3 linked regions of the Homo sapiens genome follow. The protein of the gene in region 1 interacts with the protein of each later gene in a biochemical or structural test. Each region holds a gene or a part of one and is shown in the gene's direction. Other genes may lie near its edges. The genes, in order: PPARG, ROBO4 and TFAP2A.

Region 1 (3,650 bases):
GGATAGTAGTGCCAATTCATTTCTGGGGCTGCTGGAGAAGTTAGGCTTCTGGGATCATTCATCCATGTATCAATATTAATAAAATAAATTCTTCTATTGCCAGGACTGTCAGGAATAGCTAAAGATGTAAAAGATCTAAACCAGTGTGTTCTTTCAGAGAATAAGTTAAAAATAATATTTTATAGAGTTAAAAAGAAAAGCACTTGGATTTTTTTTTTCCAATGGCTGGACTCAGTTGGCCAATACCCTTGTTTGCCTGCTGAGTAACTCTTTGGCTGGCAATTGATTTTTTTAAGAGCTGTGGTTATGTGCTAGTTCATTAGCATGTGAATAATTCTTCATATTAAGTTTTCATTTGTTTGTCGTAAATCTCTAAACCCTGCAGGAAAGCAGAATATCTTTGACAGCTTTCAAACTTCACTTCTATCACACACAGCACTCCACCAGCACCTCTAGGAAACAGTGGTTCAAAAGGCCCTGCCCCAAGACCCCAGCATGTTAAGAGCGTTAGTTTAAAATCTCCAGTTCATCCTAGAACAATCATTTTAAAAGGAAAAAAAGAAGTGGGGAAGTCCTATAGAAAGCAATGGAAAGGGAAAAGTTCTCAACCCAGAATCGGGGCTTAGGTTCTAGTTCCTGGTTTGCTATAAATGGCACTTTGACTTTGGAATGTCTCTGGCTTCCGTTTATCCATTAGTCAGAGAATGATGGGACAGATTACTTCTGAAGACCCCTTATGTCCTATAAATCTCATAGTTCTCAACAAGAGGGAAACGGGAACAACAGGGGCAGAAACCAACGAGAGGCTGAGGAAACCAAACCAATGAGTTTTGGATTGTAGCTAACCGAGGAGAACCAGGTGTGTCAAAGGTGATGAAAGTCAGATGTGTAAAAAGCAAGAAGGAAACAAAATGAAGAACATGAGCCCTAAGAATTCAGTGTCTTTCCCTGGTAAAACTAAGAACATCAGGAAAGCCACACTCGATGAGGCACACATTTTTCCAAGCCAGTTTTCACTCTGACAGGGTTACCTCAAGTGATTGTTTGAGAGAGGGTAGAGGGGTTGACTACACTCATTCAATCTGCCAAATTAGAAAAGTCACCCAGAATACCCTGTGCTTTTTGAGTGATTTTCATGTTTATCTCCCGTAGCTTGCTATTTTGTTATTCAAAAGGAGTGTAAACTTAGGGCATTCATGTATAATACCTTTCATAACTCATGTTAAAATGCTGATGTTATTGGATTTCTCAGGAACACTACTGTTCTATTTCTCCATTCAAAAAGGTAAAAAAAAAATTAATTACTCTATTTTCATCATTAATCCCATTTCCCCCATTGTCTTTGTATTCTACATAGGAAGCATGCCATAGATCTATAATTGAATTTACTCATCTATATAAAACAGTACTTTTAATCCCATCCTGAAAATCAAAATATATTTTTGAAAATCAAAATATGTCAAAATTGAAAATCAAAATGTCAAAATATTGAAAATTGAAATATATCAAAATTAATTATATTTGATGTATCCCTCAAAAAATTGATTTCTCCTTACAGAAATCATTTTGCTTTCCTGGAAAAACACTGGGTTCAAGTGCAGCTTTCTTCATTCCGTTCTGGTCTGTCCAGTATATGAAAAGCACAAGCACACAATGACCAGTGACAGATTCACCATGAAGCTAATGAAGCTTCATGGGGCCCTTCCCTTGTGCAGAAGTCCTTCCAGTGCTTGGGGAAGGGCCGAAGCAATTTTATTCTCATAATTTGTAATATTTTCCTTAGAGAGACTCCACTACTGTGTATATTTTATGCCCCACAAAACCTGAATTCACCCCATCATGTCCCATTTGTAATTAAGCTTTCTTTCCTGTTAAGGAGGGACGCTTACCCAGCCCTTTGATGTACGGTCTGAAGATAAATACACTGTTAGCCCCCAACTAGAAGTGTAAAATCATTAAGACAAAATTTGAGAATGATACGGCTCCTATAATGGCAATCTTTGGATGATACTGTCCAAGCTGATGGAAAGTGTAAGGACTCCACTTTGCTTTGTAAAAAATACAAAAAAACAGCCATGGAAGTGCAGTACATTTTGTATGGAACATTGTACCACATTGTACCAAATGTCATGTTAAATTAATGATTCAAGATAAAATGCAGACCAAATTTGACCAGGGTTTTAAGAGGTTCTCTCTCCATAAAGCAGGCTGGCCACGATCTTCTCACTAGGTTTGAGGGTAAGGAGGTCCCCTGTGAAATATGAAAGTGAACTCTCTGCTATCTAAGAATTGGTGAATTGGTTGCAAAGAAAGGCAGACCAGGCCCACCCAGGGATCACTCTTGCAGTTTGACAGATCTACCTGGAGGCTGAAAGAATCTATGCAGCCTTCGGAAATGCAGTGAAAACAGTATAATCAGATATGACTAGGGAAAAAATAAAACAACTGGTGTTCATTTGCATGTCAACACCCAGAATTCTCTGCTAGTTCACCTCTTCTTCAGAATGCAGAAAGGATTGAAAAAGCTGGAATGGGGCCGGGCATGGTGGCTCATGCCTGTAATCCCATCACTTTGTGAGGCAGAGGTGGGTGGATCACCTGAGGCCAGGAGTTCAAGACCAGCCTGGCCAACATGGTGAAACCCCGTCTATACTAAAAAATAAAAAAATTTAAAAAAAATTGCCGGGCGTGGTGGTGGGTGCCTGTAATCCCAGCTACTCTGGAGGCTGAGGAGAATCACTTGAACCCAGGAGGTGGAGGTTGCAGTGAGCCTAGATTGCGCCATTGCACTCCAGCCTGGGCAACAGGAGCAAAACTCCATCTCAAAAAAAAAAAAAAAAAAAAATGAAATGGTTTGGCATGATGGTGGGGTGCTGATTCCTCTCTCTGTCCTTGAGTATTTACTGCCAGGAAATCCTGACCAACATCAATTGCCAAGGGGTTAAAGTCACATTGTTGTTAAATTGGGAGAGAAAATTAGCAGGATTTTGTGCCCTATGTTCAACTATTACAGAGTTTCAAAAACAGGAACCTGGAGCTTTATATGAGGGGACAGGGGAAGTAAAGGGGAAGAGTGACAAGGGTGATTTATCAGGGCATAGTTCCAGATAAATCACTTACATGGAGGTGAAAGAATTTCATGCATATGTTCTGTGCCAAGAAGCCAAATGGTTGAGCAGAAGCTCTGAAAGTTGAAGTGGGCAGTTCTGGGTACAGTCTTTCCACATGTGAAAAGGTGATGATTTTATATTCATGTTATTTGTACTCCTGCATGTGCAGTTGGTCTTTTCAGGTGTCCAGATCATCATTTTCTCATGACATGAAAGAAAGCCAATAAAGGCTAGTTGTGGTGGCTCACACCTGTAATCCTAGCACGCACTTAGGGAGGCCAAAGCAGGACGATCACTTGAGCCCAGGAGTTCAAGACCAGCCCAGGCAACATACATAGCAAGACCTCATCTCAAAAAATGAAATAATTTTTTTTTAGAAAAAGAAAGTAAATATTTCATTAATATAAATTATAATACACTGTAAAATGCCTGGAGGACAAGAAACACGTTTTCTCTAGGTTCTGTGAAAGCATCATTATCCATTCACATTTTTCTCATAATTAGAACCTGACGTTCTGGAAAAATACAGTAAATTTTCAT
Region 2 (3,750 bases), on another chromosome or scaffold:
TTTTCATTCCTCTCTAGCAGGTGGTAAAGGGATAAGGATTGGGATCCAGGGATAAGATTTAAATAGAGGATTAAGGCTCTGATTGGAGTTATGGTTAGTGTAAGGATACACCCACAGAATTTGGGGTAGGAATTGGGGCCAGAGAACAGAATTTGGGATTTCAGAATTAGAGGTGCCAAGGGTAGTGACATTCTGTTCTCTGGCCCCAATTCCTATCCTTCCAGCTCTGCCACTCCATGACTTTCACTCTGCCTATTCTTTAGCCTCTGCAAACTCCCCAGTTTGTAGAGACCATGGTGTTTCCTTGCTCCAGTTCTGTCTTTGTCAGTATTGGTCTGAGTTTGAGAGGAAAGAGGAGGAGTGAAGGAGACTTCTACTTGGCAGGCTGTTAGTCTGTGGCTGGCACCGAAGCCAGGATGGGAAGGGGGAGGAAGGGAGGGCGTCAGCTGGGTTAGGGGCCCTGCAGAGAAGCTGGCCAGGAACAATTGGGAACAAAGGCTGGATACTCTTCCGCTGAGCCCCAGAGCCTGGCCTTGGCCTTCCGGGAACAGCTCCAGGAAATGGCTGAGATTCCAGATTTGGAAGGAAGAGGCCAGTAAACATGAGCTGGGATCTGACAGGGGAGTGTGGCCTCTGTCTAGGTTGTGGGGGAAAGGAGGCAGCGGGCAAGAGCTGACATTGTAGGCTCAAAACCTGCAAGGCCTGTCTGCTACATATATGGACACAGGCTCTTGGGACTGGAAAGACTCTTAAAAGGTCTTTTACTCCAACCACCTTTCCAGGGCCTGAAAAATACTCCTGCCGAGGATCCTCCAATAGTTTCAGTGATGGGATGGGCCTAAAAAGAAATACACAATGTTGGCTCAGCTTTACGGATCACTCATAATGAGTCAGGCACTGGATGCCAGTGGTTTTATGCTTTATGTGTTTCATCATTACTTTATCCCTCAAGGTAGGAACTACTATTATTATTTCCATTTTACAGAGAAGGAAACTGACTTGCCCAAGTTCTCCACAGAAGCTTATTTCATCCATCTCTGAGCTGAATATGGACACACCCTGTGGTAATCTCCCAGCTTGTCCCAGATGCTGAGTCCTTCCTGTCTCCCACCCTACGCCACCTCCTGGTCCATCTGGCACTGGGGAAATGGATGAGGGTGTTACAATCCACCCCTGCTCCACTTCACTCAGCCTCCCCAGCCTGCAGCCCCACTGCCCTCTGTCTTCAGCTTCTTGCTGTGTCCTGAGACTCCTGGGGTTTTCACTCTTCTCTAGCAGGTGTCAAAGGGATAAGGATTGGGATCCAGGGATAAGATTTAAATAGAGGATTAAGGCTCTGATCGGAGTTTTGGTTAGTGTAAGGATACCCTGTAAGAAATCCCCGAGTAGATCATGAGATAAAGCTTAGCGCTGAAGTTAGGGTCGGGGGTTATAGCTAAATGGTCGAGGTCAGAGAGTTTCTCGCCTCTGGTCTCCTCCCAGTTCTCCAAGGCACTGAGGGCCAGGCAGGAAGCATCGGTTTCCTCAAAGCCGCTTCCCTCCTGGGGCAGAGTCTCGGTCACAAACAACCACCACCGGCCCACCCCGCCCCTCCTTCCCTCTTCACTGTGAGCTCAGAGCAGCAGGACAAAGTGCTCGGGACAAGGACATAGGGCTGAGAGTAGCCATGGGCTCTGGAGGAGACAGCCTCCTGGGGGGCAGGGGTTCCCTGCCTCTGCTGCTCCTGCTCATCATGGGTGAGTTGCTCTCCCTCTCCTGGCCCATGCTCCTCCATCCAAGGCCTGCTCAGGGCAGAAGGGGCCTGCTGACTGCCTGCTTCCCTTTTGCAGTGGGGGGACCAGAGATGAGGATGAGGATGATGATGATGAGTGTGTGTAAGTGTATGTGTGTTTGTGCATGTGCGCACACACCAGAGAGAGAAAGAAGGAAAGAGAGACTGAGAGAGAAAGAAAGAAAGAGAGAAAGTAAGAGAGAGAGAGAGAGAGAGAGAGCGAACATGCTATGCAAGCCCTGGCCTGGATGCTGTGCATGCTGGCCCTCTCTCCTCCTAGCTGGCTTGTTCTTTGGGAGGCAACCTTTAGTAGTTCAGATTACAGGTTTTCTGGCAAACTCGCACACAAGAGAAGACAGATGAGGGGTGGGCCAGGAATTTGGGGTGTTGCTGGTGATCAGACTGGGCTCTGCTCCCTTTCCCTCCCAGGAGGCATGGCTCAGGACTCCCCGCCCCAGATCCTAGTCCACCCCCAGGACCAGCTGTTCCAGGGCCCTGGCCCTGCCAGGATGAGCTGCCAAGCCTCAGGCCAGCCACCTCCCACCATCCGCTGGTTGCTGAATGGGCAGCCCCTGAGCATGGTGCCCCCAGACCCACACCACCTCCTGCCTGATGGGACCCTTCTGCTGCTACAGCCCCCTGCCCGGGGACATGCCCACGATGGCCAGGCCCTGTCCACAGACCTGGGTGTCTACACATGTGAGGCCAGCAACCGGCTTGGCACGGCAGTCAGCAGAGGCGCTCGGCTGTCTGTGGCTGGTGAGGCCTGGGAGGGGAGCTTCAGGGTGGGGCAAACCTGGGTGGAGACATCTGAGCTGAATGTTCAAGGGAACATCTGAGAGGTCAGTGGGATACCTGTGAGCAGAGGCCTGGGCTGGAAGGCTTGGGAGGGCAAGCTGGGGCGGGGCTGGCCCTAAATGGGAGGCCAGGAAGGTGGGCAAAGCAGAAGGGGGCAAGAGTGATAAGGGAGAGAGAAGAGGCCTGGGCCCTGCTCCGTGTCACCTTCCATCCTCCCCACAGTCCTCCGGGAGGATTTCCAGATCCAGCCTCGGGACATGGTGGCTGTGGTGGGTGAGCAGTTTACTCTGGAATGTGGGCCGCCCTGGGGCCACCCAGAGCCCACAGTCTCATGGTGGAAAGATGGGAAACCCCTGGCCCTCCAGCCCGGAAGGCACACAGTAAGTGTGGCCCCCTCCCCCACACTTCATCCTGGCCTGGGCAGACCTGGGTACACCCTGATGGACTGACCTGCCGTCCAGCCCCGCATCCTCCGGTAGAATTTGAGGAGGGGAGAGCAGGGGGCCTCAAACTTCCCCCCAGCTCAGAGCCCCTCCCCACATAGGAGACTTCACAGTGAACCTGGCCCTGACAGGTGTCCGGGGGGTCCCTGCTGATGGCAAGAGCAGAGAAGAGTGACGAAGGGACCTACATGTGTGTGGCCACCAACAGCGCAGGACATAGGGAGAGCCGCGCAGCCCGGGTTTCCATCCAGGGTAAGGGCAGGGGTGGGCTACAATCAGAGCCAGGCTGCAGGCTCCAGTTGGGGTGGTGTATTCTGGTTTGGGCTGGGGTTAAGGTATGTGGGGTCAGGGTCAAAGTGCTGGGGGTCTCACGTAGCGGGAGGTTCCCCCCTGCTAGAGTAGAAATCGGAATGCTCAAGACCTGGAGACTCTGGGAGTTTGGGTTCCCTGGGGTTCCTCCCTGGCTGAGGGATGTTCCACGCCTCAGTTCTGTCACTCTGGCCTATAAGCCCCAGCCCAGCCCTATCCTCCCCACAGAGCCCCAGGACTACACGGAGCCTGTGGAGCTTCTGGCTGTGCGAATTCAGCTGGAAAATGTGACACTGCTGAACCCGGATCCTGCAGAGGGCCCCAAGCCTAGACCGGCGGTGTGGCTCAGCTGGAAGGTGAGGACCAGGTGCTAAGGGTAAAAGCCGATCCAGAGCTCAAGAAAGGGCGTTCCTGAGCTCTCTGACCCCC
Region 3 (3,650 bases), on another chromosome or scaffold:
ACTCCGATTTGCTACACTGAGACTCCCGTCAATGGACTGCATTGAGAGCCGGCTCCGGCGCGAGTTGCCTCTCCGCTTCACGCTCGATTTCCAGGCATTCTTCCCTTATTAAGTATTCGTGTAATATTAATAGTCATGAATATCTGCTATTAGGAGGCTCCAGGAACGCTGCCCAGCGCGGTTATTAGAAGCTCAAGCGAAGCCGCCGCTAAGAAAAGAGGGGGAGACACGGATTAAGGAACACGCACGCACCCACACACTCACACATACTTTTTCCTTTTTCCTTTTTTGGGGTTTTTCATTTTTAAAGAACTTTGAATCATAACCAGTCGCGGCAGGATAGAGACCGTGGGTTCGACCAGCTGAAGGCGCCGCGCGAATCGGTGGTTCAAGTTCGGATGGATCCGAGCCGGGCTCCCGCGCTCCGGGGAGCGTCGGCGCCGTGACTGGAGTCCTGGGTGGCGCGGGGCTCTCGGCGCCTTTTGTGTGGGGCGCGCTCGGGCGGCGGGGCAGCCGGGCGCTCCAGGCTTGCTTGTTTTTTTCCACCCTGACTCGTTACCCCAGACTCTTCGCAGATGTTAGTTCACAGTTTTTCAGCCATGGTGAGTCCCATCCCCACCCCCGTTGCTGTTTCTTTAGGAATTGGATTCTGGAAACCTGGTGCCGTGGAGCTGCCCGAAACCTCGGGTTTCACGCCCAGCTTTCCTTCAGGACACCCTCTCCATTTGCATCCCCCACCCCACCTTCCGCCTTTCTCTCGCTCTTTTCCATCCCTAAATCGAGTGCATTACCCCCTACCCCAGCCCCCGCTCGACCTCTCCGAGCACGCAGACCTACCTCGCCGCGGCTTCCCAAGGCGTGTTTCTCCCCACGTTCATCTTGATTTCCTTGAGTCTTCACTTGTCCCCGAGATGTTCTCAACATTTGATGCTTAAACTGTCTGCAGGAAAAGTGCAGCGCGGTGTGCCCCCTACCCTCGGGACCTGCGGCCGAACCGCCGAGGGTTCGCGGTCTCTGGAATCAACTCTCTTCGCTTGTTTTGCAAGGGAATTGCAATAGAGAAACCTAAAGTCAGGCGTTTCTTCTGCCCTTTGGGGCTGGGGTGGAAGGGGCGGGGGGGGGGGGCCACAGCCCCGGGGTGCACCTCTCTCTTTTAAACCCAATAAGGCTGAATCTTTCTATTTTAAACCTTGACTTGACGTCCCCCTTTCCCTATCCAAACCATAAATCGACTCTGTCGAGAAAAAGGCTCCTAACAGAGGAAGCGAAAAAGACAGACCCCGATCCTGCAGTTAAAACCTTCTTTAAGCTGGTAATTTAAACGTGTGTTTTTGTTACAGCCCCTCTGCGAAATATGTTTCTATTTAAGTAGTCATGAAACGGTAACAGTCTTTGAACGTTTATGATTTTTTTCTCTCCAAATAAATGGAAGAGAATAAACAATAACGCAGTGGCAGACAGGTTCAAATCGGGGGAAAAGAAAAGGCCGCTTCTGCTGTTTAGTATTTAGGAGGAATTTTAATTTTGCTTAAGAGAGATTTCACGCTGCAGTTTAATGGGCTGTGTTCCAGGAGACCCTTTTCTATCTTTTCCTCTCTTTGAAAGAAACCCCTAAATAGTCTCTTGTGCCCCCTCCATATACAGTTTCTCTGCGTTGTTCGGTCTGTTTCACTTGAGGGTATTTCCTGAAAAGAACTTAGAGCTGATTTTTTCCCGGCGGCCAGCCAACGGGAACGGGCGATTTCCCACGCAGACTTGTCAAGTGGATTTTGTGTGGATAGTTGTAGCTCGACGCCTGATTCCTTGTTCTTTACCTTTCCTCTCGCTCTCTTCTAGGACCGTCACGACGGCACCAGCAACGGGACGGCACGGTTGCCCCAGCTGGGCACTGTAGGTCAATCTCCCTACACGAGCGCCCCGCCGCTGTCCCACACCCCCAATGCCGACTTCCAGCCCCCATACTTCCCCCCACCCTACCAGCCTATCTACCCCCAGTCGCAAGATCCTTACTCCCACGTCAACGACCCCTACAGCCTGAACCCCCTGCACGCCCAGCCGCAGCCGCAGCACCCAGGCTGGCCCGGCCAGAGGCAGAGCCAGGAGTCTGGGCTCCTGCACACGCACCGGGGGCTGCCTCACCAGCTGTCGGGCCTGGATCCTCGCAGGGACTACAGGCGGCACGAGGACCTCCTGCACGGCCCACACGCGCTCAGCTCAGGACTCGGAGACCTCTCGATCCACTCCTTACCTCACGCCATCGAGGAGGTCCCGGTAAGAGGCCGCGCAACCAGCGCGGGAGGGAACACAGCCCCCTACTTACCTACCCCAGAAAGGATACCTGGAACATACAGTCGGTGGGCCCGGGTTCTCCCTAGTATTTCCTTATAAAAACATTTTATTCGGAGGCGGAGAGTGAGGGACGTTTTGAGGAACCACACAAAGTAGTTGCGAGTTCTACCCCAGAACAATGGTTTCTGGAGCTCCCTCAAACAATGCCTGCATTACCATTTCCACCAACACAGATAAATCAGACGAATGTCACCATTAACAATATCTTCCTCTCGACGACAGTAAACTGTCTCAATTGCTAAAAGATCTACTTCCATCGCTGAGTCTGGCGTGGAGATTTCTCCCTGTCCTGGGAATGATGTTAAATGCAACCAAAAGAGCTCATTAAATGTCCTCAAAATGTAAAAGGAAGTGTAAAAGACACACTAAGATCATTTTAACCGGATTTTATAAGCACAAGTGAAACCTAAAAGTTATGTGTACACCCTATCCTGATTAAAGAAAAACTAAGTAGCAAATCCAAGCAGAGGGACATTAAAATGCAGCCTTCTTCTTACTAGGGGTGCTAAGTGGTGACCTCATAAATCATTAGCTAGGTTCCCAACGCCTATCAGAACCTGCTACACTCCATATTAAATTAAATGTTTCGAGACTATTGGGTAATACATTATTTGAGTTCTAATTTAGTTATCAATAAATGCAGTTTAAAATGATTTCTAAATAAGCATGGCATTAGCACATTTACTATTTACAATGCAAACCAGGCTATTGATAATTTGAAAATACTTTCTGGAATTAAACTTAAACCAGTACCTCTGCTTCAATTCTATATATTTATGGTTTCCTCACAACCCTCCTGAAATGGAATTAGAGCAAGCCAATAATTTTATTAAAGCTGTAAAGGCTTCTGTTAAAGCTGCTTTTCTTTGGAGAGGAAATGTATCTGGATGTGATTTTTACTAAAATGCTATTTCAAATTACTGCATCAAATATTGCAGCAGTATGTCCGTTGACAGTTTAATGATTACTACATTAGATTGTAAGGAAAATGGTCAGATGAACTTACCTCCTTGCTTGGTGAATTTAAAACATTATTTAAGTTCCGTAGGAAAATAGAAAATTTATTACATCTCTCATTTGGCCCAGTTAGTCACTGAAATTTGTTGGTTATGTTTAGCAGCCCTTGCATGGAAGGCAGGAAAGTGGGCACTTGATCCAGTATAAGGTTTAGTGAGCACTGTATGTCTGTATATGTGTGTTCATACTTACATGTTTTTAGAAACTGATACTTAACAGTGCATTTTTTTGGAAGTGAGAGGAGCACTAATTTATATAAGAGCAATTTAAACATGAACTGGGAG

What was found.
Region 2: the proteins of PPARG (region 1) and ROBO4 form a complex in vitro, tested with the Homo sapiens proteins (one study listed by BioGRID).
Region 3: the proteins of PPARG (region 1) and TFAP2A form a complex in vitro, tested with the Homo sapiens proteins (one study listed by BioGRID).

Annotation. Positions count from the first base shown.
Region 1 is NC_000003.12:12,410,993-12,414,642, forward strand, and holds part of PPARG (peroxisome proliferator-activated receptor gamma), read left to right. Parts: intron 1-3,650. UniProt on the Homo sapiens protein: Nuclear receptor that binds peroxisome proliferators such as hypolipidemic drugs and fatty acids.
Region 2 is NC_000011.10:124,895,712-124,899,461, reverse strand, and holds the start of ROBO4 (roundabout homolog 4 isoform 1 precursor), read left to right. Parts: upstream 1-1,596; 5' UTR 1,597-1,666; coding exon 1,667-1,736; intron 1,737-2,200; coding exon 2,201-2,530; intron 2,531-2,791; coding exon 2,792-2,949; intron 2,950-3,143; coding exon 3,144-3,264; intron 3,265-3,549; coding exon 3,550-3,677; intron 3,678-3,750.
Region 3 is NC_000006.12:10,408,522-10,412,171, reverse strand, and holds part of TFAP2A (transcription factor AP-2-alpha), read left to right. Parts: exon of another isoform or gene 1-575; coding exon of another isoform or gene 576-602; intron 603-1,836; coding exon 1,837-2,271; intron 2,272-3,650.